Linked DNA regions of Homo sapiens. The protein of the gene in region 1 interacts with the protein of each later gene in a pairwise test. Each region holds a gene or a part of one and is shown in the gene's direction. Other genes may lie near its edges. The genes, in order: PTPN11, SYNCRIP, GAB2, FRS3, PNCK, DDR1 and RPIA.

Region 1 (4,254 bases):
TGGCCTTGCTCTCTTGCTCGAGCTTCACAGAGTGTCCAAAGTAATACTTCCGTACCACCCGGCCCGGCTTTTTTTTTTTTTTTTTTTTTTTTTTTTAAGAGACATGGTCGCACCATGTTGCCCAGGCTGGTCTTGAACTCCTAGGCTCAAGCAATCCTCCTGCCTCAGCCTCCCAAAGTTCTGGGATGAAGGCGTGAGCCACCATACCTGGCCTGAGTGCAGTGGCGCGATCTCGGCTTTCAGCAGCCTCGACCTTCCAGGCTCAAGCAATCCTCTCACCTCAGCCTCCCGAGTAGCTGGGACTACAGGCGCGCGCCACCACGCCCGGCTAATTTTTGTATTTTTTGTAGAGATGGGATTTCACTATTTTGCCCGGGCTGGTTCCCAACTCCTGGACTCAAGCGATTCGCCCGCCTCAGCCTCCCAAAGGGAAGTGCTGGGATTTCAGGCGTGTGCCACCGCTCCCACCCCAAAGTAGTATTTATTGTAATTATTATTATTATTTTGAGACGGAGTCTCGCTCTATTGCCAGGCTGGAGTGCAGTGGCGCGATCTCGGCTCAATGCAACCTCTGCCTCCCGGGTTCAAGCGATTCTCCTGCTTCAGACTCCCAAGCAGCTGGGACTACAGGCGCCCCCCACCACGCCAGGCTAATTCTTGAATTTTTAGTGGAGACGGGGTTTCACCATGTTGGCCAGGATGGTCTCGATCTCTTGACCTCGTGATCCGCCCACCTCGGCCTCCCAAAGTGCTGGGATTACAGGCGTGAGCCACCGCGCCCAGCCTATTATTATTTTTTTAGGCAGTGTCTTGCCCTGTCGCTCAGGGTGTAGTGCAGTGGCGTGATCACGACTCACTGCAGCCCCGACTTCTCGGGCTTAAGTTATCTTCCCGCCGCAGCCTCCACGCCCGGTTAGTTTTTTGCATTTTTTGTAGAGATGAGGTCTTGCTTTTTTGCCCAGGCTGGCCTCGAACTCCTTGGCTTAAGCGAACCTCTTGCCGCAGCCTCCCAAAGTGTTGGGATTACGGGCGTGAACCACCGCGCCCAGCCTACTATCTTTATCTTACAGAAAGAAAAGAATGGAGGAAACCGAGGCTCGGAGACAGTAGGTAATTTCCCCAAGGTTCCACAGCTAATGAGTGGAGCGGCGATTTGTGGAACGAAATGAATGAAATCGATGTGGCAGCGGGCCCGGACGGGTCGGTGGCGTAGACGCGGAGCGCGCAGCTCACACCTGGCGGCCGCGGTTTCCAGGAGGAAGCAAGGATGCTTTGGACACTGTGCGTGGCGCCTCCGCGGAGCCCCCGCGCTGCCATTCCCGGCCGTCGCTCGGTCCTCCGCTGACGGGAAGCAGGAAGTGGCGGCGGGCGTCGCGAGCGGTGACATCACGGGGGCGACGGCGGCGAAGGGCGGGGGCGGAGGAGGAGCGAGCCGGGCCGGGGGGCAGCTGCACAGTCTCCGGGATCCCCAGGCCTGGAGGGGGGTCTGTGCGCGGCCGGCTGGCTCTGCCCCGCGTCCGGTCCCGAGCGGGCCTCCCTCGGGCCAGCCCGATGTGACCGAGCCCAGCGGAGCCTGAGCAAGGAGCGGGTCCGTCGCGGAGCCGGAGGGCGGGAGGAACATGACATCGCGGAGGTGAGGAGCCCCGAGGGGCCCGGCGCGGGCCTCGGCCCGGCCACCGCCGCGTTCGGTTAGCCCCGTCCGGAAGGGGGCGCCCCGGCCGGGCTTCGGGCTCCCGCCCCGGGTCGGGGTTGGGGGCCGGTTCCCTCCTCGTCCCCTCGCCCTCCAGGGGCCGGGGGCCGGCCCCACCGCGCCCCCACCCCTCGGGTCCCCATTCATTTCCTGCCTCCCCGAGTTCCGGCTGCGGCAGCCCCGGGGATGCCCGTCAGGCCCGGGGCAGGTAGAGCCGCCGAGGGAACCACGGGTGCCAGCGGCCAGGCTCAGCGCCGCATTCCTGACCCATTGCCTCATGAGAATTGCCTCATGGTGATTCCGAAATAACCCTGCTCACTTGGGGAGGCTCCTTGGGACACGAGAGGGGAGTTGCGCGGGGCCGGGCCCCCAGTGGTCTAGTCGTTCTGGCTCACTGTGCCACTTTCGTGCATTTGGGGACTTCACGCAGGACCCCTGACCCTTTTATATGCCTCTTTGTGTCTTCTTTTCCTCCTACCCCTCACGTGCCAGAAATGGAAAAACTGACTGTATCTGCAGCCACTAGAAGTATTTCCTTCCTCTGCGATCTTCGCTTTGGGAGATGGAAAGGAAGGGAGCCGCATCTCGTTATTTAATCCTTCACTGCAACCTTAACAGTCAGGTCACTTTACTGGTACCCGTTTTATGGATGAGGAAACCGAGGCCCAGAAGCAACATGCTAGTAAATGACAAGATTTGAAACTTAGGAGGATTAGTGAGTTAATGAGATCCTTTGAAAGGTCAGGGTAATACTACTACTAATAGCTAACATTTGCTTAGTTCTGACCACAGCCCTATCAGATGGCTACTATTATCCCCATTGTAAAGATGAGTAAACCGAGTTTCAGAGGTTAAGTAAATTGCCTAACCTCACAGCTAGTAGGTGGTGGAGACAGAATCCCTACTTTTAATCACTATGTTGCTTCTATTATTTTGTAACTATTGCTAACCATTTGTAAGCCTTAATTTTGTTGTCAAACAGTAGTGTGACCTGTTGTTTTCAGATAGTGATCCTGCTATTTTGTATAGTCACTCTATATACCACTCACACTTAAGACCCATTGTCTATTCTTTTCCATGATTGTTCAATTATGGTCACTGTCTCAGACATTTAAAAAACGATTCAAGCTATTGAGGCTATTTGAATGAGATTTTCTTTTCTTTTTTTCTTTTTTTTTTTGGAGACGGAGGCTCACTCTGTTGCCCAGGCTGGAGTGCAGTGGCGCAATCTCGGCTCACCACAATCTCCGCCTCCTAGGTTCAAGCGATTCTCCTGCCTCAGCCTCCCAAGTAACTAGGACTACAGGCGCACCACTATGCCCGGCTAATTTTTGTATTTTTAGTAGAGACAGGGTTTCACTATGTTGGCCAGGCTGGTCTCAAACTCCTGACCTCGTGATCCGCCCGCCTTGGCCTCCCAAAGTGCTGGAATTACAGGCGTGAGCCACCGTACCCAGCCTGAATGAGATTTTTCAAAATATTAGGAATGTCTCCTCCAAACACACCTGGCATGTTATTCATACATGGATCTGGAATTTAAAAAGGGGAGAAAAAGAAAACTGAGAACTCGTAGGAAGTGAGTGACTTGGACAGGTCGGTTGGCAAGTGCTTACAGATCTGGGTAATATATAACTGCATTTCAACAGAACAGTGTATAGCCTCAAATGTTCTAATTCTTTAGGGAGCTTTTAAATAAACAGTTGTCTATTCTTTAATCTGTCAAATAGTCATTGAGCCTTTTGTTCCTGGTGTCTGCTCTTCCAGACAAGTAAGGATCTGCTGCTTTAGGAGACATCAGACGGGGCTGGGGGTTGGGAAAAGGTCTGGGTAGTAATAGACCCTACATTGTCCAGTTTGTTCATTTAGAAGCATAGAAGTGTGGGCATAGTCAAAGTAGCAAGTGGTAAAGATGACAGTTTGAAATGGAGTAATTCCTTCTCCCCTCCAGCCCTGGTATTATGCACCACCCAAAAAGCCGGGTTATGAACATAATACACATAATTTTGAATGATTCATTATTTTTTGGATTATAAGCCTGTTTTATTTGTTAACCAGCCTTAATGAGGTATAAATGACATGCAATTAATTGCATATATTTAAATGTACAATTTGATCAGTTTTGACATACATATACACTTGGGAAACCACCACCATAGTCAAGATAATGAACACATCTATCACCCCTGGTAATTTTGCCTTATGTTCTTTATAATCCTTCCTTTGTTCTTAGGCAGCCACTATTCTGCTTTCTGTCACTATGTATTAGTTTGCATTTCCTAGAATTTTATTTTTAAAAATTTTAAAATTGTTTGAATAGAGATGGGGTCTCACTGTGTTGCCCAGGGCAGTCTCAAACTCCTGGGTTCAAGTGATCCTCTCACCTTGGCCTCCTGAAGTGTTGGGATTATAGGCATGAGACACCCTGCCCAGCCCTAGAATTTTATTATTATTGTTATTATTGTGTTTTTTTGAGATAGGGTCTCACTTTGTTGCCCAGGCTGGAGTGCAGTGGTGCAATCACTGCAGCCTTGTTTTCCTAGGCTCAATCCATCCCCCCTCCTCAG
Region 2 (3,500 bases), on another chromosome or scaffold:
GCAACCTCCACCCCTCAGGTTCAAGTGATTCTCCTGCCTCAGCCTCCCGAGTAGCTAGGATTATAGGCGCCTGCCACCACGCTCAGGCTAATTTTTATATTTTTAGTAGAGATGGGGTTTCGCCATGTTGGCCAGGCTGGTCTCGAACTCCTGACCTCCGGTGATCCACTCGCTTCGGCCTCCCAAAGTCCTGGGATTTTAGACGTGAGCCACCACGCCTGGCTAGAAAGAAATTTTAATATTTTAAATTATAGTTTATGTAAGTCCTTTAAACTAGTTTTATTAAGTTCTGTGACAGAAGTGGTTTCTGCATTTTATAGTTGAAGAGTTGGGGGCTAATTTAAACCCATAGAATGTATCAAGCAACACGACTGGGGAGAACTTTTGTACAAGATAGCTCACTATGCCATGTTTGTTAAATTTGCTTTATCTGGCTTACGTATCCTGTGGGTAATTCCAGACAAACTTAAAATCTTCAGACTCATTTTTTTTTCCCTCCCTCCTGAGTTTTACCCCTTCCTTTACCATGAGGTTTATCACTTTAAGCAAGCCTTAAAGAGAAAAATAAAACTCATAAGTCTTCCTTTTCTTTTTTTTTTTTTTTTTTTTTTTGGGAGATAGAATCTCACTCTGTCACCTAGACAGCAGGAGTGCCATGGTGCGATCTTGGCTCACTGCAACCTCCGCCTCCCAGGTTCAAGCGATTCTCCTGCCTCAGCCTCTCCGGTAGCTGGGATTACAGGCATTTATCACCACACCTGGCTAAATTTTGTATTTTTAGTAGAGACAGGGTTTCACCATGTTGGCCAGGCTGGTCATGAACTCTTGACCTCAGAAGATATGCCTGCCTCAGCCCCGCAAAGTGCTGGGATTGCAGACGTGTGCCACTGCACCCGGCCAAGTCTTCCTTTTCTATGTTGTGTGAATATTCCCCACTGGTTTGCATAATTGAGTATGATGGAAGTTAAACAGTACAAAATTATGTTACTTGAAAGAATATAAGCCTTTACAAAGAGAATTTGAGAATTTAGATATTTTCAAATCATGTCTGATTTTTCTCTTCATAAAAGAGTGCTTTGTGTTTTAGAGGGAATTCAGATTTACTGGTAACCTTTGAGTTGTCAAAATTTTAGTTTCAGCAGTTCAATTTGAGGGGAGGGGCATTTTAGAGCTCTAGAAAGAGGTACCTTAGAAATCCTTTAGTTTGTTTTTATGATTTGTTTTTTGAGACAAAGTCTCTGTCACCCACGCTGGAGTGTGTGGGCATGATCTTGGCTCACTGTAATCTCTGCCTCCTGGGCTCAGGCAATTCTCCTGCCTCAGCCACCCGAGTAGCTGGGATAATAGGCGCGTACCACCACACCTGACTAATTTTTGTATATTTGGTAGAGATGGGGTTATGTTGGCCAGGCCGGTCTTGAACTCCAGACCTCAAGTAATCTGCCCGCCTTGGCCTCCCAAAGTGCTGGGATGACAGGCATGAGCCACTGTGCCTGGCAGGTTGGTCTTGAACTCATGGTCTCAAGCAGTCCTCCTACCTCGGCTTCCCAAAGTGCAAGGATTACTGGCATGAGCCACCTTGCCTGTCCCAAAATCCTTTAATCTCCTATAAAAGAGTAGAATATTTTTGCCAAGTAGCAATAAAGTAGCAGTAAGTGAAAATGCAGAATGATCCAGTAAGCAATGAGGTATCATAACTACAGAAAGCTAATACAGTGGGCTCTCTCTACTGTGGGTCCTGCATTCACAGTTTCAGCTAGCTGAGGATTGAAGATACTCCCAAAAAACCCAATAAAAAAAAAAAACAACACACCAGTGTATGAGAGAATGTTCGTAGGTTATGTGCAAACACTATGCTATTTAAGAGAGTTGAGCATTCATGGATTTTGGTATGGGTTCCTGGAATCAGTCCCCCGTATGTGCTGAGGGACCACTGCAGAATTTAGCTAGTGGTGTCATCCATTTTTTAACATTATGAAAAAGAATCATTAAACTGACATCGTAGGTTACCTAATTCTTGCCGTCAAAATGTACCAATTATGGTAGGTGACCACTATAACTTATTTATAGATGTTTTCCAGAAACTTTACAGTAAAGATACATCATTAGAGGAAGATGGTTTATAATCCATTAGTAACAGTGATTTCGAGTGCCAGTAGACACTAGGAAATGTTTCCATTTGTACAATTGCCTTGTTTAATAAATACGTTAAATTATAAAATTGCATTGCTGTAGGTTGCTTAGAATATAGTCTTATTAATATAGTTTTTAAATATAATGGAGAAACTTCTATAGATAAGCATTCTTTTTGATTGGCGTAGGAATTAACCCTTGTCCTAAAACTTTCTACATTTCTTTCTGGGTTTCTCTGTTGTGATTTGAATCCTTTTCTGGGGGCATAATTATTTTGTACTATCTAATTAATAGGAGACTTTGCATTTTGTTGTCTTTTAAAAGATACTTTTGGCAGGGTGTGGTTGCTCACACCTGTAGTCCCAGCACTTTGGTAGGCTGAGGTGCAAGGATTGATTGAAACCAGCCTGGGAAACATAGACCCCATCTGTACCAAAAAGTAACAGATTAGCCAGGCAGCGTGCACCTGTGGTCCCAGGAGGTCAAGGCTGCAATGACCTGTGATCATGCCACTGCACTCCAGCCTGGGCAACAGAGACCCTGTCTCAAAAAACCAAAAAGGGGGAAAAAAAAAATTTCCAATGGTAGGTATTGGTATACAGCCAGTAGGATATATTGGTCATACCATCATTTGCTTTTTTTGACTTTTTAGTAAGTTTTTTTGAAACGGAGTCTCCCTCTGTTGCCCAGGCTGGGGTGCAGTGGTGTGATCTCAACTCACTGCAACCTCTGCCTTCTGGGTTCAAGTGATTCTTCTGTTTCAGCCCCCTGAGTAGCTGGGATTACAGGTGCACACCACCATGCCCTACTGATTTTTGTATTTTTAGTAGAGATGGGGTTTCACCCTGTTGGCCAGGCTGGTCTCAAACTCCTGACCCCAGTCTCGGCCTCGGCTTCCCAAAGTGCTGGGAGTACAGGTGTGAGCCACCACACCCAGCCTACTTTTAAGTAAATTGTTTATTTTATTTATTTATTTATTTATTTATTTATTTGTTTTTGAGATGGAGTCTCACTCTGTTGCCCAGGCTGGAGTGCAGTGGTGCAATCTCGGCTCACTGCAAGCTCTGCCTCCCGGGTTCACGCCATTCTCCTGCCTCAGCCTCCTGAGTAGCTGGTACTACAGGCACCCACCACCACACCCAGCTAATTTTTTTTGTATTTTTTTAGTAGAGACAGGGTTTCACCGTGTTAGCCAGGATGGTCTCGATCTCTTGACCTTGTGATTCACCCGCCTTGGCTTCCCAAAGTGCTGGGATTACAGGTGTGAGCCACCGCGCCCGGCCTTAAGTAAACGGTTTTAATTATTATTACTGTTTTCGGAGACAGGTTGTCACTCTGTTGCCCTTGCTGGAGTGCAGTGTCATGAT
Region 3 (3,500 bases), on another chromosome or scaffold:
TTCCCTGTGTGAAACTGGAATGACTTTGCAGGCCTTTATAAACATGCTCATGTGTTATATATAAGGTGTGTATGTGTAGCATTATCATTACTGGCTGATTACCAGACTTTCTTTTCCTGCTCCAGCAAAGCCAACACCACTTGACCTGAGGAACAACACCGTCATCGATGAACTCCCCTTCAAGTCACCTATCACCAAGTCTTGGTCTAGGGCCAAGTAAGTGCGTATGTGTGGGGGTGGGAGCTTGGAGTCGGGCCATTAGGGAAAATGAGTGATGTGGTAGCTGGCCTGTGGGCCGGGACAGCTGGATTCTGATGCTAACGCTATCATTAGCTGATCATGTCTCGATGTCTTGTGGCTTGGTTTCCTCAGCTGTAAAAGAGAATAATTATACCTGCCCTATATCAGATCTTAATCTGATGGAGTGTGCAGCTCTAATGGCTGAGGTCTGGGTGTGTGAGGGTCAGGGCCCAGCTGGAGGCTAGAAACATGGCAGCAGCCATGCAGCTTCCCCAGTGTTAACTCTTCCTTCCCACAACAGCCACACCTTCAACTCCAGCTCCTCCCAGTACTGCCGCCCCATCTCCACCCAGAGCATCACCAGCACAGACTCAGGAGACAGCGAAGAGAACTATGTCCCTATGGTGAGTCCTTCGGGCTTCGCTGGAATGACGCCTTTCAAGTCCCCTGGGACCCACCCCTCAGTTCCCCACTTCCCAGCTTAGCTAACTCACCTCAGCCCAGGGACTCCTTGTATTATTCATGATTTAGTCTCCTGCTACAAACCCTTCTTGAGCACCTGTTTATCAAGCAGTAGGAGTTGTCATCAGATGTAAGGAAGACATGAGACCTGTCCCAACGAAGTCATGGTCTTCAAGAGCAGGGGCCTGCCTCTCATGACAGTGACATGGGTGGCATGATCTGTGCCCTTGGATAGGCAGTGCTGGAGGTATCTCCTCAGTGGTGGAGGTATCTCCTCAGTGGTGAGAGGCATACGTGCACATAACTCACTTTGGTGAGGCCATAATAGAGCTATCAACACAGGCAGAGGAGGATATTTCTTCCCTGAGATTTCCATTAAGGGCGTAACTGCCCAGCACCTGGTAGTCACTGCATAGATAGTGAAAGAATGAATTAACCAACCAGTAAAGCAGCCAACAAACAGAACACAGGACTATCACCTTCTCATTAGAATAAGACTTCCAGAAAGTTCTAGAGGAGGTGGTGCTCTGCTAGAGCACGAGCCTGGATGGACAGGATCCTAGAGCGTGTCATCTGAAGAAATGCGGGCTTGTGCAGCCTGGAGATGAAGCCACCCTCTTCAGATCTTGGAGGAGCTAGGCGGGGGAGCAAGCTGCTTTGGGGTGACTACCCCACTCTAGGCCACAGGTGGGAGTTTCACAGGGGCTGATTTGGTGCGACAGAAGAAAACTTTCCAGTGCATAAAGGAAATGTGCTCCTTTCTTAAGCGCCAGCAAGCAAAGGCTGGATGTCTCAGGAGAGCCACTGTTGATGAGACTTGGCCTGATGTGCTAGAAAGGAGGCAGTGTGGTACAGGGGTTAGCACAGGTTTGGAAGTCAGAAAACAGACCTGATTCCCATCACTCAACAGCTGTGCAGCCACAGGCAAAGTCACTTCTCTGAAAGTAAAGTGAACCACAGTTTCATCTTTGCTTTAAACAGTATCAACAGTAATCATACCTACCTTACAGGATTGTCATGAGGATTAAAATGAAAACATGAAAAGTCCTTAGCATGGTGCATGTGTCAGAGTAGGGCTCAGGGAAACAGTGTTCTTACTCCCAGAGGTGTTTTTCTGGGTGGTGGGTTAGTCTGTTTTCTGCAGTCACTCACAGTTTTTTCCTCCTCGTGACAGCAAAACCCAGTGTCTGCATCTCCCGTTCCCAGTGGCACGAACAGTCCTGCCCCTAAGAAGAGCACCGGCAGCGTTGATTATCTGGCCCTGGACTTCCAGCCGAGCTCCCCAAGCCCCCACCGCAAGGTGCCTGGAGTAGAGTTGGGGGGGCAGTAAGAGCTCTCAGGGTCCCGGAGGCAGAGATCATGGAGGCCAGGGTGCCTTCAACACTGAACAGCAGCACTCAGCCTCCCTCCTGCTCCAGTACCCAGCTTTTATGATGCATCTTTAGTCATAGAGCTTTCATCTAGGTCTAAAGACTCCTATTCCTGCTCTCAGAGCACAGTACCCTCAGTCAGAGAACCTCATCAGTCAGCCCATCCCCCGTGTTGTAGAGATGGGCAAATGAGTGCACAGAGATCTGATTGTCCTAAGGTTACAAAGTGAATCAGCAACAGATCCAGGAATGAGGATACTGCCTCCTGGTCCTGGGCTCTCGAGTGGGTCCAGAGCCCTGCCGTCGATACATCAGCCTTCAGAAGGGACTTCCAGGCCTGGGAAAGCCTCCCCAGGAGGCATCCTTATAGCTAAGCAGTCTAGACAGAAGGGTGCAGAGCTGTGCCTCAGCATGGTTCCCCTTCACAGGGTGGCAGTGAGCACAGCACGTAAAGTCCTGTGGCTGATGTTTGTTTGCACCTAGCAAATTCCTTCCCCTGGATGAGCGACCTGACAGAGATGGGTGGAGGCAGAGATGAAGGCCTGGACCCATCCACCAGGGCCAAGGAAGGGCCTGGGTCCTCCCAGAAGCCGGGAAGTAAGAAGGGCTGGCAGGTGCTGCTACATCCTGCAGGAGGGATGATGAGTTTGGAGTCTGAGCTTTAAAGCCCACATTCAGAAAGAGAAGCCAGGCTCCTGAGGCTGGTCAGTGGCAGGCAGAGGCCATGCTCTTCTCCCCTTCAGACAGCTCAGGAAGATCCCGTGCCCACCTTCTTCCTCCCCACCTAACTGGTAACTCACAGCTACTCCCTCTTTCCCACTCTGTCCCCTCAGCCATCTACTTCATCCGTCACCTCTGATGAGAAGGTGGACTACGTTCAGGTGGACAAGGAGAAGACCCAGGCCCTGCAGAACACCATGCAGGAGTGGACAGACGTGCGGCAGTCCTCAGAGCCTTCCAAGGGTGCCAAGCTGTGATGAGAGGGCCACCGCAGAGCCCAGGAGGCAGCATCTCCAGAGCTGGCCCTTCCCATCTCCCCTCTCCCCTCTCCCGTTCTTCCTCCCATCCACCTCCTCTCTACTCTGCCAGTCTCAGCCTTCAAAGCACTTGACATCAGGGACCCTGAACCCTTCCCCTGGGAGGTGAGGGCCTGATCAAGGCACCTCCTCTGCCCACTCGGGGCCCAGCTGTGATTTTTATCAGTAATGGCCATGCCTCCACCCACCTTAGTTAGGAGCTACTTCCAAAAAGCATCCTTCAGCCTCTTCCTGTCCTTTAGACCTGACTCTCTACCAGATGTTTGGAGGGAAGGGCTGGGGCTCTGAGCCAGATTCCACACCTCACGTTCAGTCACAGCCCTCAGCTATCTTCCCTCCGGCCACTGGGCTACCTCTCCTTCAGTCCCAGAAGACAAGTCTCACCAACCCA
Region 4 (4,089 bases), on another chromosome or scaffold:
CCCCTCCCACCTCAGATAAGGGACAGAGCTGAACCCCTTGTCTTGCCTCCGTGCAGAGCCTCCGTGCAAGAGGGCTCAGGAGCTGGACATCCCCAACACCCGCTGCCCTGAAGGGCAGAGCCCGAGAGGACTTAGGGCTTGGGGAGGTGGAGGGATGGGAAGATTTCTGGGGACAGTGGGAGGGAGAAGGAAGGGGAGTGCCCAGTCCCGCCAACTGCCCTCTCGATAGATCCCCAGAGTTTTTCTGGAACTTGGCGGGCCCGCCTCCGGGGCTGGGACGCGGTGTTTCCCGAGTCCGCTGGGGTTCCCGGTCTGGCTGCTGGGATTTTAGGGGAGGGGACCAGGACTCCGCTGGGGTCTCACCCTCGCTGTGCGTCGCTGTCCGGGCAGTTCTGGACCGACTCTGCCGTCAGGCCCCTCACCCGGTCCCCACCCCAAGGCTTCAGCGCCCGCCCCCGTCCGCCCCCGCCCGCCCTAATAGCGCGGCCCTTCCTCTCCCACGCCCCAGCGGCCCCCGCCCGCCCCTCCCCGGCTGGTGGAGAGGGGCGGCTCAGGGAGGGGCCTGGAGCTGCAGATTGGGGGGAGGAAAAAAAAAAGGAAAACAAAACCACATTTATGGGATCTCAGGGTGGAAATGTGCGGGCTCCATGGCCTCTGCCATGCAGGTGCAAGGGCTCTCTGGCTCGGACTGCGCCCGGCAGGCATCCAGCAGACGCCGGGAGCCGCGTTTACGCTGGGTTTTCAACCATTCGCTGAATGGAAACGCCTCGCCGGGCCCGCAGCCCTGTCTCTCCGCAGTTCCCAGGTCTCCCCAAACTCTCCCTGTGGTCTCCCAGCCCCGCTCCTCCGCGTGTTTCCCTTCAGTTCTCTCCCCCTTGTCCCCAGTGGTCCCCCTGGCCCCTTCCCCTCCCCTCAACCCTCTTCCAGGTTCCATCGTCTTGCCCTTCTCCTTTCAGGTCCCTTCAGACCCTCTCCCCTTCCCTTCGTTTCTCGCCCAACCCTCCGTCCCCTTTCCGCTCCCCGGACCACCCCCAACTTTGGTGTCCTCAGCCCCGCCTCCGCGCCCCGCCTCCGCCGCAGGCTCCGCCCTGTCCCCTCCGGGCTTGCTCAGCCCCTGGCCAGGAGCGCCCTCTGGCGTCTGCGCATGCTCACTGCTCCCGACTGCAAAGTCCTCCAAAGGGACCTTCTAGGCTGCGTGCCGGTCGCCCCCGCTCGGGTCCGCCAGCCCGCAGCGTCTCGTTGGTGCTGCCGGTGACCTCCGACCCCGCGGCCGCGGGGCGGGGCGGGGCGGGGAGGCCTTAGCTCCGGGCGGGCGGCGGCTGCTGCAGCGGGACCCGGGAGCGGGGCCCGGCGCCGCCCGGGCCGCGGGGCGATGTGAGTCGGGGCGCGGCGGGGCGGGGACGAGGCGGCTTCACCGAGGCCGCGCCGCGCCGCGCCGCGCCGCGCCGCAGTCTCCACTCCCTCCCTAGGAAGCCCCGGGCGGGCGGGCAGGCGGCGGAGCACCGGGGCTGGGGGCGGGGATCCGGGGACAGCGCGCACCCAGACCTCCTCATTCCTTACGGGCATGTAGAAATTCCCCTTGACAGTCCTGTAGCCTGTCCTGCAGCCTCTGGCTCCCCCAACCCACCTCTACCCTCTCCGCCCTGGACACATCATCGCATCTCCTGGAGCCCTCAGAACCCCCTCATTCACTCAACAAATCTCCTGCTATGCCCACGGACCCACCATTTCTCTTGGATGCCCCCAAATGCTTCCACTGCCCGGAAATTCCTAGGATCCCTCATATCCCCATTCTCCTTGCACTATCCAAAATGCCCACATCCAAAATTCTTGCTCATGTTTCCCCAAACGTCCTCATACGTTTTCAGCCCCCACACCCCCCTCTCACTCCTGCCCCTGATCCATACCTATCCCAGACCAGAGGCCTCTCCCCATTTCCACTCAATGCAGTCCCTCCTCAGTGGGCTATCTGATACATCCTGATATCTTAAGGAGAAGAGATGGTGATAGGGAAATTCAGCCCCTCCCCCATCTTGCACCCTAGAGTTCTTCGTTTCAGTGCCCGCGCCGTGCCCCCGTCGGTGGCTCAAGCCCCAGTATTTTCCCAGCAACCTATCTTTAGTCTGTGCACACCTCCCTGAGCCTGCTTCTTCCTTCCAGAAAATAAGCCAGACCAAGGGGATGGGGTCCTTTTACCTGGAAGTTGTCCAAGGATGCAGGGTGCAAGGGGCCCTGGGAAGTGTTTCTCCAGAGCAGGAATGTGGGATGTCCAGGGTCTGCAGAGTCCTGGCTTGTTGACTTGTCTACCTTGGGCTCAGATATCCTGAAATTTTGGCTTACTGTTAACATTTATGTTAAAATTAGGCCTTTCAGAGCTTGGGGAGCAGAAAATCTATCAAGCTTCCAAATGCGAAATTGAAGCAGCCTGTCTTGGAAGATGAACATGTCAATTTTAGTGAAGTTTGTCTTACGTTTTTACCTCTGCAAGTTATTTAAGCTAGAAGCTCCCCAGTTTATAGATGGTTCCCCCAAAAACTAAGGCCTTAGGTGGGAGTTGGGGGGGGCGTTGACTTAAGTCTCCCAGATACTTAGTAGCAACAAAACTGACCGATATATTGGTTTCCTGAGTCTTAAACCAGTGCTGTCTCTACTATATCACAGTGTCCTTTTGAGAAAGCTCTTTGTAGAGTTAAAGTTCTCTGCAAAGGTAAGGTGATGGTTTTGGTGTTTGTTGTAACAGGACTCAGAGGGAGATCTAAAGTGACTTAAAAGGTCTTTGGTCGTCTTAGACTTCAAACTTATTGATGTTCTTGGTGTCTGTCCCTCTCAGGGCCCGTGGGGCTTGGGATTTGTGCTCCCTTTGCCCTTGATTTTACTTTCTTCATTGGTGTTTTTGTCCCATTAGGGCTGGAACAGATACCCAGGTGGGATGGACTGTTAGGTCAGTTTTCATTAACAGTTGGGGGTGAAGATAGAAGGTTTTGTTAATCAGTGTCTCTGTTTCCTATGCTAGGTGAGCCCCAGGTGTATCCCAGAGGGATCCGGGTGACTTCTCTGCAGACTGTTTGCCATGACAGCCCACCAAGGACGGGGGGAATAAAGTGGGAACCCTTCCCCATGCCCCTCCCACGGTCAGCTCCCCGATGGCCTGGGTGAGGTAAGAGCTGTGTATAGGGGTCAGTTTTATGGCGTTTCCCAAGTTGGGAGGAACAGAGGGTACAGGTCACCTGGTTGTTCAAAGCTTTACCATTCAGCAGGAGTTCTAGAAGGATAGCCAATCCTACAGACTTATTTCTTGTGACAAGTTGCAACCCCTTAAAACTTCTGCTTGGTATTGGTCCATGCATTTCTTGTTCCCTTAGGTCATTCAAGCTTGGGTGGTGTCCTCTTCATTCTAGGCACAGTCCTGACTATTGTGACATATAATCCAAGTACTGGAATCCTGGAGGGGAAGAGCCAAATAGTAAGGCCTCTGGTCTCCCCTTCAGAAAAAGGGAAGGAAACCCAGCATTTTTTTTAAATGAAGAAATATCCACTTGAGGTTATTAAAACTGCACTGTTTTAAATGTTCAGTCTTCTGAATATATCTTTATGATCACAATGTAACAACTCATTTGAAGAGGACATCAGAAAGATAAATTTGCACTGGATGTTGGGATGGTAGTAAGGGAGAAGAGAGAACTTGGATGAAGTGGAATGGATGAGGTAAAAAGGGAGGAAAAAAGAGACAGGCACAGGCCAAAGTGTCTGAGACCCCCAAGTGACAATTTCTTTGCTGAATCCAAATAAGGGGCTCGGGCTGGCACCCACCTCCATCTGCTGCAGATCACTTCTCCTGGACCCCTACTTTTCTTCCTGCCTGTGTCCCTGCCTTCCTTGTCATTACATGGGTCAGAATCCTACATACTTCTCAAGGTCCAGATCAAATGTTACCTCTGAGAAGCTCTCTCCAGCCCCCCATCGGCATTCATCCTTAACACATTGTAACTTGAATTAACGTTTATCCAATGTGTGTCTGGCCCTGGATTGAGAATGTGAAGTCTTTGAGGGGGGGTCTGTATCACACAGTCTCTTGGACAGAGTAGGTGA
Region 5 (4,088 bases), on another chromosome or scaffold:
TGTTTTAGATGTCGGTCCCAGGAAACCATTTTCACATAGAGGAGCAGGTGGGACTGGAGTTTCTGAGTGCTGGGGTCCCTGGAGCCTTCTGCAGTGTCCTGGGAGGGGTGACTGGGAAAGGCCAGGGGGCAAGAGCTGCTAGGGGCCTTCTCAGATTTCCCAGTTTTTACACAGAGTATATATGGGAGTTGAGGTCTGGAAAAATGATTTTTTAAAAACTCTTCCTGCCCCGTGGACTCTCTTGAAGACGTCGTGTCATGCCAGGGCCCACGGTCACTTGACGGAACCCTTGTGATGCTGGCCACAACCTCATGGGACTGGATGGCGAGCAGCGAGGGGGGTCCAGTAACTGTTGGATGCAGGATTGAATTCGGTCACCCGCACTTATTTCCTGGGCTCGTCTTGGTTGGGTTCGCGGAGATACACTCTCTGGGAGCGGACGCTTTGGTGAGGAAGACCAGGCGAAGAAGGTGATTTTTGCGGTTGGACGTTCTAAAGACAGGGCAGGGTTATGCGGAGAGAATTGGCAGGGGCAGGGCGGGGGAGGCCGGTTTGAGGAGGGGACATTTGAGCCGAGATCTGATGGAACGAGGAGCCAAGCCAGGCAGATATCTGATCGAAGAACATTCCAGGCAGGGGAGCAAAGGCTAGGGCCGTCAGGAGGCCAGTGTGGCCGGGGAAGAGGTGGAGGAGGAGGGGCCAGGGCAGTCGTTAGGCCGCCCCCTAAGGACTCATGCTTTGACTTGGATTGACATAGAGAGCTGCAGGAGGGTGACATGATCTCAATAAAAGGAATGCTCTGGCTGCTGGGTAGAGAAGAAAGCGAGGGTGAGGGATTAATGGTGGAGCCAGAGGGAGCCCAGTGAGTGCCGGGAGCCCAGGGTGGCAGAGCTGTGGTGCAGGGTTGCAGGGTCCTGGAGCTAGGCATGGAGGCTGCTTTCGGGCAAGTGGCCGGGTCAGCCTGTCCTCGGAGAGGCGGTGAAGGCAGAGACTGGAAGGCAGAGAGCCTTGCCGACCTGTGGCCGAAGAGCTCTCCGGGAGACAGCCACCGGTGGTGCAAAGGCCCTGGGGCCGGCCCAGCCGGGCCGCAGCTCCGGGAGGCGGCGCGAGCGAGCAGTGGGCTGGGCGGTGGCGGCCGGCACCCGAGCCGGATCCCGGCGATTGCCTTACAAGGTGCCCTGCGGCGCCGCGGCCGCGCTGGGCCACTGCGTGCTTGGGCGGCTGGCGGGGGCGTGCGCGGAGGGGGCGGGGCCGGCGGGGCGCGGGCGGGGGGCTTGGCGCTGCGGCCACTGCGCGGCACGACGCTGCGGCACCCGCTCCAGGTCTGCACCTGCTCCGGGGCGCGGGGACGCGCGGGGCGGGGGCGCACCGGATCCGGCCCGCGGCCGCCGCAGCCTTGCGCGTCCGCAGCACACCTGTCACGCCTGGCGCGCCCCCTGCCCGCACGCGCTCGGTCCACGCAGCTCGGGACGCGGGCGGCCCAGGCTGCCAGGTCCCCCTGCTCCGCGGCGCCGAGGGCTGGGCTGCGTCTGCGGCCGCGTGGGTGGCCGCGGTCTTGGCAGGTGGCTGCGCGCGGGGGTCGCAGGTGCATCCCGGGCGGCTTGGTGGCTTGGGCAGCGGGTGCCTGTGGGCGCTGTGCCATGGGTGGCGGGTCTAGGCGGGGGTGGGGGCTTGGGCGCTGTAGATGTGTGGATGGGGGAGGGACGGCGTGGGTGAGCATGGAGCCTTCTGGAAAGCGGCCGGATGTGTGGAGGCAGAGAGGCAGCATCCAGGCGCTGGTCGCCTTCGGGGTGCGGGGGAGGGTGCGTGGGATAGCAGCTGTAGGCCTGGGATGTGGAGGCGTGTATGCGGTGGCCTCGCTGGGAGGCGTCCGTCTGGGGGTGTGGACCTGGACGGGGGAGGGGAGGGTCGAGCGCGCAGCGGCAATGGCTGAGGCCTGCCTGGCAGGGGGTGGAGGAGGAAGCTGCCCTTGCCCCCGGCGGGGCGGGGAGAGACCCCCATCACCTCTCCCCTGCCCCTGCAGACATGCTGCTGCTGAAGAAACACACGGAGGACATCAGCAGCGTCTACGAGATCCGCGAGAGGCTCGGCTCGTGAGTGTGCGCGCGCGTGTGTGATCGTGTGTGTGTGTGTGTGTGTGTGTGTGTACCTGTGTGAGATGGCATGTGTGTGTGACTACGCGAGTGGGTGTGAGATGATGTGTGTGTGTGTGAATATGTAGGGGTGTGTGAATGTGAGTGAGTCTGTGAGATGGCATGTGTGAGTGGTGGTGGGGGGTGGCACAGGGCCAGGTAGGGCCTCCCCATCTCCTTCACAGGGGGCCCTCCCCGCTCCACTCTCTCTCCCTCCTGCCTCTCCTCTCTTCCCACTTCCTTCCCACCTCCCACCGCCCCGTCTGCGGCAGGGGTGCCTTCTCCGAGGTGGTGCTGGCCCAGGAGCGGGGCTCCGCACACCTCGTGGCCCTCAAGTGCATCCCCAAGAAGGCCCTCCGGGGCAAGGAGGCCCTGGTGGAGAACGAGATCGCAGTGCTCCGTAGGTGCGCACCTCGCGGGGCCCTGGGACGGGGCATAGGTCGATGGGGGGGTGCAAGCAGTCCTTGGCTCTAGTCCAGGCCTGGCCACCAACCTTTGGGAGGCCTGGGGCAGTGCTCTCTCTGGGCCTGCACATCCCTGTGGCAAAGGGAGTGAGTTGATATTGATCTGTGCTTTTCAAATGGGCTTTAGAAGGAAGGCCGGGGCTCAGGCTGGAGCTCTGCCTTCCTGGACCGGGCAGGGGTGGCATGTGGTAGGGAATGGGGAGCAGAGGTGGGAGGAAGAGAAGAGGGAGGAGGCTTTCCCCAGGGCCTCAGGACAGAGCACCCCTTGACTCTGTTGGCCCACAGGCGCTTCCTTGCCATTGCAGGATCAGTCACCCCAACATCGTCGCTCTGGAGGATGTCCACGAGAGCCCTTCCCACCTCTACCTGGCCATGGAACTGTGAGGAGGGCCTGGGCAGGCTGTGGGAGCCGGGGAGGGACTGAGCAGTGAGTGGGGCTGAAGGCCAGGCTGAGTGCCTGGGTCAGCCAAACCCCTGGCACCCCCAGGGTGACGGGTGGCGAGCTGTTTGACCGCATCATGGAGCGCGGCTCCTACACAGAGAAGGATGCCAGCCATCTGGTGGGTCAGGTCCTTGGCGCCGTCTCCTACCTGCACAGCCTGGGGATCGTGCACCGGGACCTCAAGGTGCCTGGCTGGGGCCTCTGCACCCCACCCTCCCACCTGCCCACCTGGCCCTGCCTTTGTTTTCCCGGGAGCACGGCTGGGGCCTTTCTTGATCTCCTGCTCCACCAAGGCTCTGGGGAACCTGAGAGTGCCTAGTCCCCATCCTGTCCCAGCACCGGCACCGCGTCAGGACTGACTGGCCCTTTTCCCGGTGTCCGTGTGTCACAGCCCGAAAACCTCCTGTATGCCACGCCCTTTGAGGACTCGAAGATCATGGTCTCTGACTTTGGACTCTCCAAAATCCAGGCTGGGAACATGCTAGGCACCGCCTGTGGGACCCCTGGATATGTGGGTGAGGGACGACACCCTGAGGCTTGCTGGGAGTGGGGTGGCCTGGGGGACCCTAGACAGCCGGGAAGGCTGTTGTGCCCGTTGCCTTTGTGTGGGCCATTCCTGGGCTTGAGTAGGCCGAGCCAGTGACACTGAGCGGCATGGCTGCGTGTGTGCCTGTGCGTGCGTCTGTCTGTCTCTGGCCCCCAGCCCCAGAGCTCTTGGAGCAGAAACCCTACGGGAAGGCCGTAGATGTGTGGGCCCTGGGCGTCATCTCCTACATCCTGTGAGTGACCGCTGGGAAGGCTTGTCTCCTGCCTGCCTGCCCCTGCTGGGTTGGGGAGGGTGGGACAGCTGGATGATTCATCTGTGGGTGCCAGGCTGTGTGGGTACCCCCCCTTCTACGACGAGAGCGACCCTGAGCTCTTCAGCCAGATCCTGAGGGCCAGCTATGAGTTTGACTCTCCTTTCTGGGATGACATCTCAGAATCAGGTGAGCTTGAGGCTGGCCCGTGCTTGGAGGTGATGCAAGGGAGTGGGGACCTGACAGGCTGACC
Region 6 (3,069 bases), on another chromosome or scaffold:
CCACCATCAGGTACCTGCTTACCCAGGCTGGGCCTTGCTCAGAATTCCCCCAGGGGATCTCCTCCTCTCCCCTCGCTTCAGCCTGGAGGAAAAGAGGGGAGCGTGGGGGTGGGAAGGGAGAGAGGTTCCAGGAGGGCCTGGGATAAGGAATGTGTGACAAGTTAACCCAGGAACATGGACAGAAAGGCTGGAGGTGACTATGCAAGAGTGGTGAAGGGACTTGGGCCCTGCCATGACGTCCCTTCTGCTTTCTCTCACCCTCACTCCCCTCTGAGTCCAGATTGGGGAGCACAATAAAAGAAGAGCCCCCTAGTGTTGGCCAGGCCTGGGAGATTGAGAGGGAAGTGACCCTTGGCCTCACGTGGGCATTCCACCTCCACATGGGGAGCCAGAGTGACCGGGCCCGGGGAGTGGGCTCTCTCTCCTCTCCTGGATGGGAATCTGCGAAGCTGCCCCCAGTGACCTTCTGTCGGTTCCCTTCTCAGCTACCCAATGCTGCTGCATGTGGCAGCCCAGATCGCCTCCGGCATGCGCTATCTGGCCACACTCAACTTTGTACATCGGGACCTGGCCACGCGGAACTGCCTAGTTGGGGAAAATTTCACCATCAAAATCGCAGACTTTGGCATGAGCCGGAACCTCTATGCTGGGGACTATTACCGTGTGCAGGGCCGGGCAGTGCTGCCCATCCGCTGGATGGCCTGGGAGTGCATCCTCATGGTGAGCAGCCCGAGGACAGCCAGGTTGGAGCAGGGCAGGTGGGAGAACACTGGCCGCCACTCACAGCCCTGGTCTCCATCAGTCACACACTTTCTCTGGGTTGCATTTTACAGAATCTCATCTATAATATGAGGTTCTCCTAGCCCAAGGGACTGGGGAAAGCAGGAGCTGCAGTGTGATGGGCAAGAATCCAGGAGCCAAGAGTGGGTACTGGGGATGGAGACAGGGTGGCAGAGAGCTCAAGAGATGAGGTTGGGCGAGGAAGCTGGAGATAGAAGGGGTTGGGTAGGGAGACCGAAGGTCAGGACCAGAAAGTGGGGGTGGATGGAGAGGAAGGAGGAGCAGAAGGAAGAGGTGGGCCAGGGCCCTGGAGAGAGGACCAGAGCATGGAGAGGAAAGGCAGAGCCCAAGGGAGAGGAGTTGGAAAAGGTGGCCAGCGGAGGAGAGTGGAGAGCCTGGCGTCAGGAGGGATCAGGCCTGAGTGGAGCCCAGAGTGGATCTGGGGCTTCCAATAGGAAGGGAGGAGGGTCTACGTTGCCTGATGTCCCTGTCTGTTTTTGCTGCCTTCTCTGCATCCCAGGGGAAGTTCACGACTGCGAGTGACGTGTGGGCCTTTGGTGTGACCCTGTGGGAGGTGCTGATGCTCTGTAGGGCCCAGCCCTTTGGGCAGCTCACCGACGAGCAGGTCATCGAGAACGCGGGGGAGTTCTTCCGGGACCAGGGCCGGCAGGTCAGAGTGGAGGAGAGGGAAGATGGGTCCGAGGCGGGGGACAGAAGGGGCAGAGTTGTCATCTTGGAGACTAAAGAATATTTGTTCCCTGACTCTCATCCACACTGCCACAATGCAGGTGTACCTGTCCCGGCCGCCTGCCTGCCCGCAGGGCCTATATGAGCTGATGCTTCGGTGCTGGAGCCGGGAGTCTGAGCAGCGACCACCCTTTTCCCAGCTGCATCGGTTCCTGGCAGAGGATGCACTCAACACGGTGTGAATCACACATCCAGCTGCCCCTCCCTCAGGGAGCGATCCAGGGGAAGCCAGTGACACTAAAACAAGAGGACACAATGGCACCTCTGCCCTTCCCCTCCCGACAGCCCATCACCTCTAATAGAGGCAGTGAGACTGCAGGTGGGCTGGGCCCACCCAGGGAGCTGATGCCCCTTCTCCCCTTCCTGGACACACTCTCATGTCCCCTTCCTGTTCTTCCTTCCTAGAAGCCCCTGTCGCCCACCCAGCTGGTCCTGTGGATGGGATCCTCTCCACCCTCCTCTAGCCATCCCTTGGGGAAGGGTGGGGAGAAATATAGGATAGACACTGGACATGGCCCATTGGAGCACCTGGGCCCCACTGGACAACACTGATTCCTGGAGAGGTGGCTGCGCCCCCAGCTTCTCTCTCCCTGTCACACACTGGACCCCACTGGCTGAGAATCTGGGGGTGAGGAGGACAAGAAGGAGAGGAAAATGTTTCCTTGTGCCTGCTCCTGTACTTGTCCTCAGCTTGGGCTTCTTCCTCCTCCATCACCTGAAACACTGGACCTGGGGGTAGCCCCGCCCCAGCCCTCAGTCACCCCCACTTCCCACTTGCAGTCTTGTAGCTAGAACTTCTCTAAGCCTATACGTTTCTGTGGAGTAAATATTGGGATTGGGGGGAAAGAGGGAGCAACGGCCCATAGCCTTGGGGTTGGACATCTCTAGTGTAGCTGCCACATTGATTTTTCTATAATCACTTGGGGTTTGTACATTTTTGGGGGGAGAGACACAGATTTTTACACTAATATATGGACCTAGCTTGAGGCAATTTTAATCCCCTGCACTAGGCAGGTAATAATAAAGGTTGAGTTTTCCACAACTGTGTGAGTGGGTTCCTTGGGAATTTGGTAACTCTGCCTCCTGCACCTCCCTCTGAACCCACTTCCCAACCCACTTCCCATCTTCCTTTTTTCCTGCCTCCTCATTCCATTTCCCATCACCTGTTTTGCCCAGCATTGTGTTCTGTTTCTGGATAATCCAGGCCTTTGCCTGTGGGACCTCAGGAGATGCATGAATGTCTGAGTGCATGAACCTTCTCAACTCAGAGGGGTGCTCTGGTGGAGGCCTGGAAGGAATGCAGTCAGGCCAGGGGTGCTGAACCTTTTTTGTGCCATAAACGCCTTTGGCAGTCTGTAGAGGTCTACTGAGTCCTCCTCAGAATTAGGTTTTAAAACCTATAAAATGGACCAGGCATAGTGGCTCACCCCTGTAATCCCAGCACTTTGGGAGGCTGAGGTGGGTAGATCACTTGAGGCCAGGAGTTCGAGACCAACCTGGCCAACATAGCAAAACCCCATCTCTACTAAAGATACAAAAATT
Region 7 (4,263 bases), on another chromosome or scaffold:
CATGCGCAAAGTGATAGAGGAGGGGTGGGCAGGAAACCCAATTTAGATGAGGTGGTCACTTAGACTTCTTTGGGAAGGTGGTATTTCAGCTGAGTCAGAAGGGTGGATGGAGCAAGCAATGCACAGATGGCCAGGCTGGCAGGTAGAGCATTTAAAATGGTTCAAAGGTCCTCAGGCCGGGGGTAATGGGGTAAAGCAGAGACTAGGTAACATTTACTTCATGAATCTTTTGGTGTGGGTGCTGAGGAGCATGAATAAGGTGAAAGACTCCTCCTAAGGAGATACATTAAAGGTGACATATTTGCCTAGAGTAGCCTTCAACTTTGCAGACCAACAGTAGTGGGAGTCCAGACATACTGTTCTGCATGTTAGCCAGAACCTTTTGCTATGTTCTGAATTTGGCCTAAAATGAAGGATTCAAATATCATCTCAAACAACTTTTCCTCCTACAGACTAAGGTGAAGATTCAAGAGCTCACGGCCTCAGAGGGCAAAGCATAGTTAAGAAAATCTAGGTGATAACCGGCAGTTAACAGTGGCCCATACCAGTGACTTGCGCTCACGGAAGAGTTCTGAAGGCCTGGAATGCGTTTGAAGATGAGTTCATGAGCAGACAGAAAGGATTCCACTAACAGCCGAGAAACACAAAGGTCATGTGTTTTTAGGGACCTCCAAGTGGTCGGTAAGGTTGGGGTCAGCATTAGTTTCTTTGCCTGTAAAATGGGGGCAATAAGAATTCCTCGTCCCTTAACTATTCTCAACAGCAAGAAACCTTAAAGGTAGAGAAGAAAAGATAAATCTGTTTTCACAGAAAGTCCTTGTTAGTCACGAAGGATTGCAGGATCGCTGCAGGGCACACTCATATGTGCAGAACCAGTCTCCAAATGGGCGGAGCAAGGTGCAGCTCCACCTGCTTCACCACTAGGTGCAGAAGAATGTCCACGGCAGGGGGTTCTCAACTTGTGACCTTGGGTCTGCGGGGGTCTAGATGGACTTCAGCTGGCGCCGTGTCGCATGTGAGTTTCCTGGGCTGTAGTAACCCCAAAAGGGCCGCGTCGTCTACAGAAGTGCCACTACTTGGAATTCTTGTCCATGGCCACGTTCTCACTGCTGGGAGAAACAACAGGGTCAGGTCTAACACTCCTTTCTCGGATGCATGGGCGAACAGAAATATCCCTGGGCTTCACCTAGCCGTGGCCTAAGTACACTTCCCCAGGGTAAGGAGTCACCATACTGATATTCCCGCGGCTAATGGTACTTCACAGAGCGAAGTGCCGGAGCCCGTCGCCGGCGATTGCGCATTCCGTCGCGGAGAGCATTATGGGATTGGTAGTCCAGACTGAGGCGCAGATAGGGGTTCCTCGAAGCCACAGAACTACATTTCCCAGCAAGACCCGCGCAGCAGGGCACGCAGACTGTGTGCGTAAGCGACCAGATTTCCGGGGGAGCCGGGGGCGGGACTTCAGCGGAGGCCGGAGCGAGGCGTCGGGATGCAGCGCCCCGGGCCCTTCAGCACCCTCTACGGGCGGGTCTTGGCCCCGCTGCCCGGGAGGGCCGGGGGCGCGGCCTCCGGCGGAGGAGGGAACAGCTGGGACCTCCCGGGTTCCCACGTGCGGCTGCCGGGGCGTGCACAGTCTGGGACCCGTGGCGGTGCTGGCAACACAAGCACCAGCTGCGGGGACTCCAACAGCATCTGCCCGGCCCCCTCCACGATGTCCAAGGCCGAGGAGGCCAAGAAGCTGGCGGGCCGCGCGGCTGTGGAGAACCACGTGAGGGTGAGCACTTCGAAACGTGGGGCGCGGGGCGCATGTCCTTGGCGTGATGGGCTACTGTTGCGCGTTGTGGGTGCTGCCGGGGCGCGCCTAGCTCCTGGCAGGGCGGGAGCTGAGTGAGAGGGTAGAGGGTGTGCACTTTACCCGAGTTTAGACCCCTCTTCCCTGCTCCTTAAAGACCTTTTAGATGTGGAATCGGTTGGGGGCGAATCTTCTAATACTTGAGCTTTCTAAAGACTCCTTGTCCAGCTGGAACAGTTTGCAAAGTGGAGCCTGGTGCTGTCTGATGTTTGGAATGGGGGCTAGAGGCACTTGCCTTGTGGCCTCCTTATCAATAAATGGAAAATGGTGGGCTTTGGGGCTGCGGAGAGGTTTTCATTTCTCTTTACTGACCCGGAAGCCGGCGGAGAGTTGGTTTGCTAGTGCTTTGAAATTTCAGTCGAAGGAGGTTCTGGGCTTGGTGCGCGCCGGCCCCTGAGTGTACTCTTGGAGGGAAGGGAAGACCCGGGGCTTCAAACTTCCTTCTTTCCATAGGGCTGGGTGGACTAAGTCTGGAGGATGCTGGTTTATTTTTTAAGGCGGGTCTGCAGAGATGTTTAGCTGTTATTCAGTCAGGTCGTGGTCCCTACTTGTTTGTTAAGTGGCAGGTGTGGTGCTGTTAGTGGAGTTTTTTTAATCCAAGTGGTTTTGCTGTCACCAATCAAGTATCTTAATTATAATAAGGAAGCCAAGTGGAGTATGTCTGCCCTGTGGTGTAGTTTCCTTGGTCTTATTGGCTTTTTATCTCTCGTTTCTACTTATTAGAAAGTGGTATTAGAGTCTCTTTTCTTCTCCGATAATAGTTCTTTACATTTGTTAATGCTTTACAAAATTATTTTGCTTAGATGATGTTGGATGAGCTTCACCACAGCCTGTTTGAGTGGGAGTGGACAATGTGGTAACCTGTGGCTCAGCCAGTTCTGTAGAAGGGATGTTCCAGTGTGACCTTCTACTCTTTCCACTGCTACCCTGTTCTGGTGTAGCTTGTTGTAAGTCTGATTGGCAATAGGATTTTCTATGGGGATTAACAGAGATAATGTAAAATGTGTTAATTTGACCCTACCTTTGGGATTCAGTGCCTCCGTTGTAAAATTGAGACAATAAGCTGAAATTTCAAAATATCTGCATACAGTGAATAGCTAATAGATAAATGTAATCCACATGAGAATACAATTAGAAAAGCCCCATATCTAAGTTGTCCTGTTAATGAATTTACATTAATATTTGGTGGCGCATCTCCCTGACCTTTGTGTTATAGTCATGTATTTGATTAAATAAAAATCTGCAAGCCCTGACCTTAGGCTAGAGCCCCAAAACACTGGATTCTGACCACATCATTTCATGAAGTTAGGTAATTTTGGGGAGATCTACAGTGACCTTTTGGGGGCACCTGTTAAAATCATATATGCCCTTCAGGGTTTGGCTTAAAGGCCATTTCCTCCTTTCAGTTTTTCCTTAGCATCCTAAGGAGAGGAAGATTTCTCTTCCGTGATTCTGTAGCACTTCATGCCTCTTATGTGCTTTATGTTGTATCTCATGTTTTGGTCATCTGTGTGTTCGTTTCTTCCAGCCCCTTAAAGGGTAAGCTCCTGGAGGGTAGTTAACCTTCATTTAGCATTGGTCACAGTGGGTCCTGCCCAGTACATGTTTGTTCAATTGTGTGCAGTGTGGACACAAATACGAAAGTGTTGGGGTTATTGGAGGTTCTTTGTGTAGAATCTCTGGGGAGTAGGGCTTCCTGTTCTCTAGTCCATTGGAGTTCCAATATGGTGACCACTTCCGTGTCTGAGTGGATGGAAAACATGGAGAGTTCTCAGGTGAATCCTTTGTATAGCCACCTTGGGCCCAGCTCTGTCTGTTTCTGTGGGTGTAGCCACCCAGGATGGGTCGACATGCAGAACTAGGCTCTTCTGAATGTCTGTAGCCTCATCCCTTTGTTCTCTTTGGAGCCTGGGCTTTGTTTTTTTACTAGCTTGGTTGAGGAAGCTGATGGGCAGTGGTTCTAGTTGGTTAGCAGAAGTAGTATTTCCAAAGTTACTCCATTCGACAAGCTGAGTGAAGTTCTGATGTTGCACATACATGTGGTTTAATATTGCCCATTAGAATGGGGCCACTCCTCTAGCAGGGCCTGCTTGGCAGTCTTCTGCTGTTGGGCCACCTCATAGGCAGCCTTTGGTCACCTCTGGTTGGCTTTGGCAAGGGCACTGATTTCCTGGGCCAGTCATTTGATTCCAAGGCAGCAGGGATCACATGGGTGAAGAGCTTTAGGTCTGGCAGGGCCTTGCAATTCCTGGTCTCTTTCAAAAGGCAAAGAACGAGCCTTATACAGAGCTTGTCTGATTCATCCGAATTCACCTCTGTGCCACCTGCCTGCTGGGGACTGTGAGTGACATGAATGTATGGCTAAGCTTGGTAACCAGGAATTTGGTGATTGAATTACTGTAAAGCTAGAG

What was found.
Region 2: the proteins of PTPN11 (region 1) and SYNCRIP interact in a two-hybrid assay, tested with the Homo sapiens proteins (one study listed by BioGRID).
Region 3: the proteins of PTPN11 (region 1) and GAB2 interact in binary tests that used the Homo sapiens proteins (3 or more experiments, as listed by UniProt).
Region 4: the proteins of PTPN11 (region 1) and FRS3 interact in a two-hybrid assay, tested with the Homo sapiens proteins (one study listed by IntAct).
Region 5: the proteins of PTPN11 (region 1) and PNCK interact in a two-hybrid assay, tested with the Homo sapiens proteins (one large-scale study listed by BioGRID and IntAct).
Region 6: the proteins of PTPN11 (region 1) and DDR1 interact in binary tests that used the Homo sapiens proteins (3 or more experiments, as listed by UniProt).
Region 7: the proteins of PTPN11 (region 1) and RPIA interact in binary tests that used the Homo sapiens proteins (3 or more experiments, as listed by UniProt).

The regions. Positions count from the first base shown.
Region 1 is NC_000012.12:112,417,493-112,421,746, forward strand, and holds the start of PTPN11 (tyrosine-protein phosphatase non-receptor type 11), read left to right. Parts: upstream 1-1,454; 5' UTR 1,455-1,619; coding exon 1,620-1,633; intron 1,634-4,254. UniProt on the Homo sapiens protein: Acts downstream of various receptor and cytoplasmic protein tyrosine kinases to participate in the signal transduction from the cell surface to the nucleus. Positively regulates MAPK signal transduction pathway. Dephosphorylates GAB1, ARHGAP35 and EGFR.
Region 2 is NC_000006.12:85,632,887-85,636,386, reverse strand, and holds part of SYNCRIP (heterogeneous nuclear ribonucleoprotein Q), read left to right. Parts: intron 1-3,500. UniProt on the Homo sapiens protein: Heterogenous nuclear ribonucleoprotein (hnRNP) implicated in mRNA processing mechanisms. Component of the CRD-mediated complex that promotes MYC mRNA stability.
Region 3 is NC_000011.10:78,218,821-78,222,320, reverse strand, and holds part of GAB2 (GRB2-associated-binding protein 2), read left to right. Parts: exon of another isoform or gene 1-125; coding exon 126-216; exon of another isoform or gene 217-541; coding exon 542-644; exon of another isoform or gene 645-1,532; intron 1,533-1,876; coding exon 1,877-2,002; intron 2,003-2,905; coding exon 2,906-3,049; 3' UTR 3,050-3,500. UniProt on the Homo sapiens protein: Adapter protein which acts downstream of several membrane receptors including cytokine, antigen, hormone, cell matrix and growth factor receptors to regulate multiple signaling pathways.
Region 4 is NC_000006.12:41,777,101-41,781,189, reverse strand, and holds the start of FRS3 (fibroblast growth factor receptor substrate 3), read left to right. Parts: upstream 1-1,289; 5' UTR 1,290-1,374; intron 1,375-1,517; exon of another isoform or gene 1,518-2,460; intron 2,461-3,013; 5' UTR 3,014-3,157; intron 3,158-4,089. UniProt on the Homo sapiens protein: Adapter protein that links FGF and NGF receptors to downstream signaling pathways. Involved in the activation of MAP kinases. Down-regulates ERK2 signaling by interfering with the phosphorylation and nuclear translocation of ERK2.
Region 5 is NC_000023.11:153,671,014-153,675,101, reverse strand, and holds the start of PNCK (calcium/calmodulin-dependent protein kinase type 1B), read left to right. Parts: upstream 1-1,288; 5' UTR 1,289-1,322; intron 1,323-1,417; exon of another isoform or gene 1,418-1,585; intron 1,586-1,717; exon of another isoform or gene 1,718-1,802; intron 1,803-1,813; exon of another isoform or gene 1,814-1,831; coding exon of another isoform or gene 1,832-1,880; intron 1,881-2,023; coding exon of another isoform or gene 2,024-2,025; coding exon 2,026-2,093; intron 2,094-2,404; coding exon 2,405-2,536; intron 2,537-2,901; coding exon 2,902-2,976; intron 2,977-3,083; coding exon 3,084-3,222; intron 3,223-3,429; coding exon 3,430-3,553; coding exon of another isoform or gene 3,554-3,681; exon of another isoform or gene 3,682-3,741; coding exon 3,742-3,817; intron 3,818-3,911; coding exon 3,912-4,024; intron 4,025-4,088. UniProt on the Homo sapiens protein: Calcium/calmodulin-dependent protein kinase belonging to a proposed calcium-triggered signaling cascade. In vitro phosphorylates CREB1 and SYN1/synapsin I. Phosphorylates and activates CAMK1.
Region 6 is NC_000006.12:30,897,588-30,900,656, forward strand, and holds the end of DDR1 (epithelial discoidin domain-containing receptor 1 isoform 2 precursor), read left to right. Parts: coding exon 1-10; intron 11-485; coding exon 486-720; intron 721-1,300; coding exon 1,301-1,450; intron 1,451-1,568; coding exon 1,569-1,709; 3' UTR 1,710-2,569; downstream 2,570-3,069. UniProt on the Homo sapiens protein: Tyrosine kinase that functions as a cell surface receptor for fibrillar collagen and regulates cell attachment to the extracellular matrix, remodeling of the extracellular matrix, cell migration, differentiation, survival and cell proliferation.
Region 7 is NC_000002.12:88,690,210-88,694,472, forward strand, and holds the start of RPIA (ribose-5-phosphate isomerase), read left to right. Parts: upstream 1-1,463; 5' UTR 1,464-1,489; coding exon 1,490-1,774; intron 1,775-4,263. UniProt on the Homo sapiens protein: Catalyzes the reversible conversion of ribose-5-phosphate to ribulose 5-phosphate and participates in the first step of the non-oxidative branch of the pentose phosphate pathway.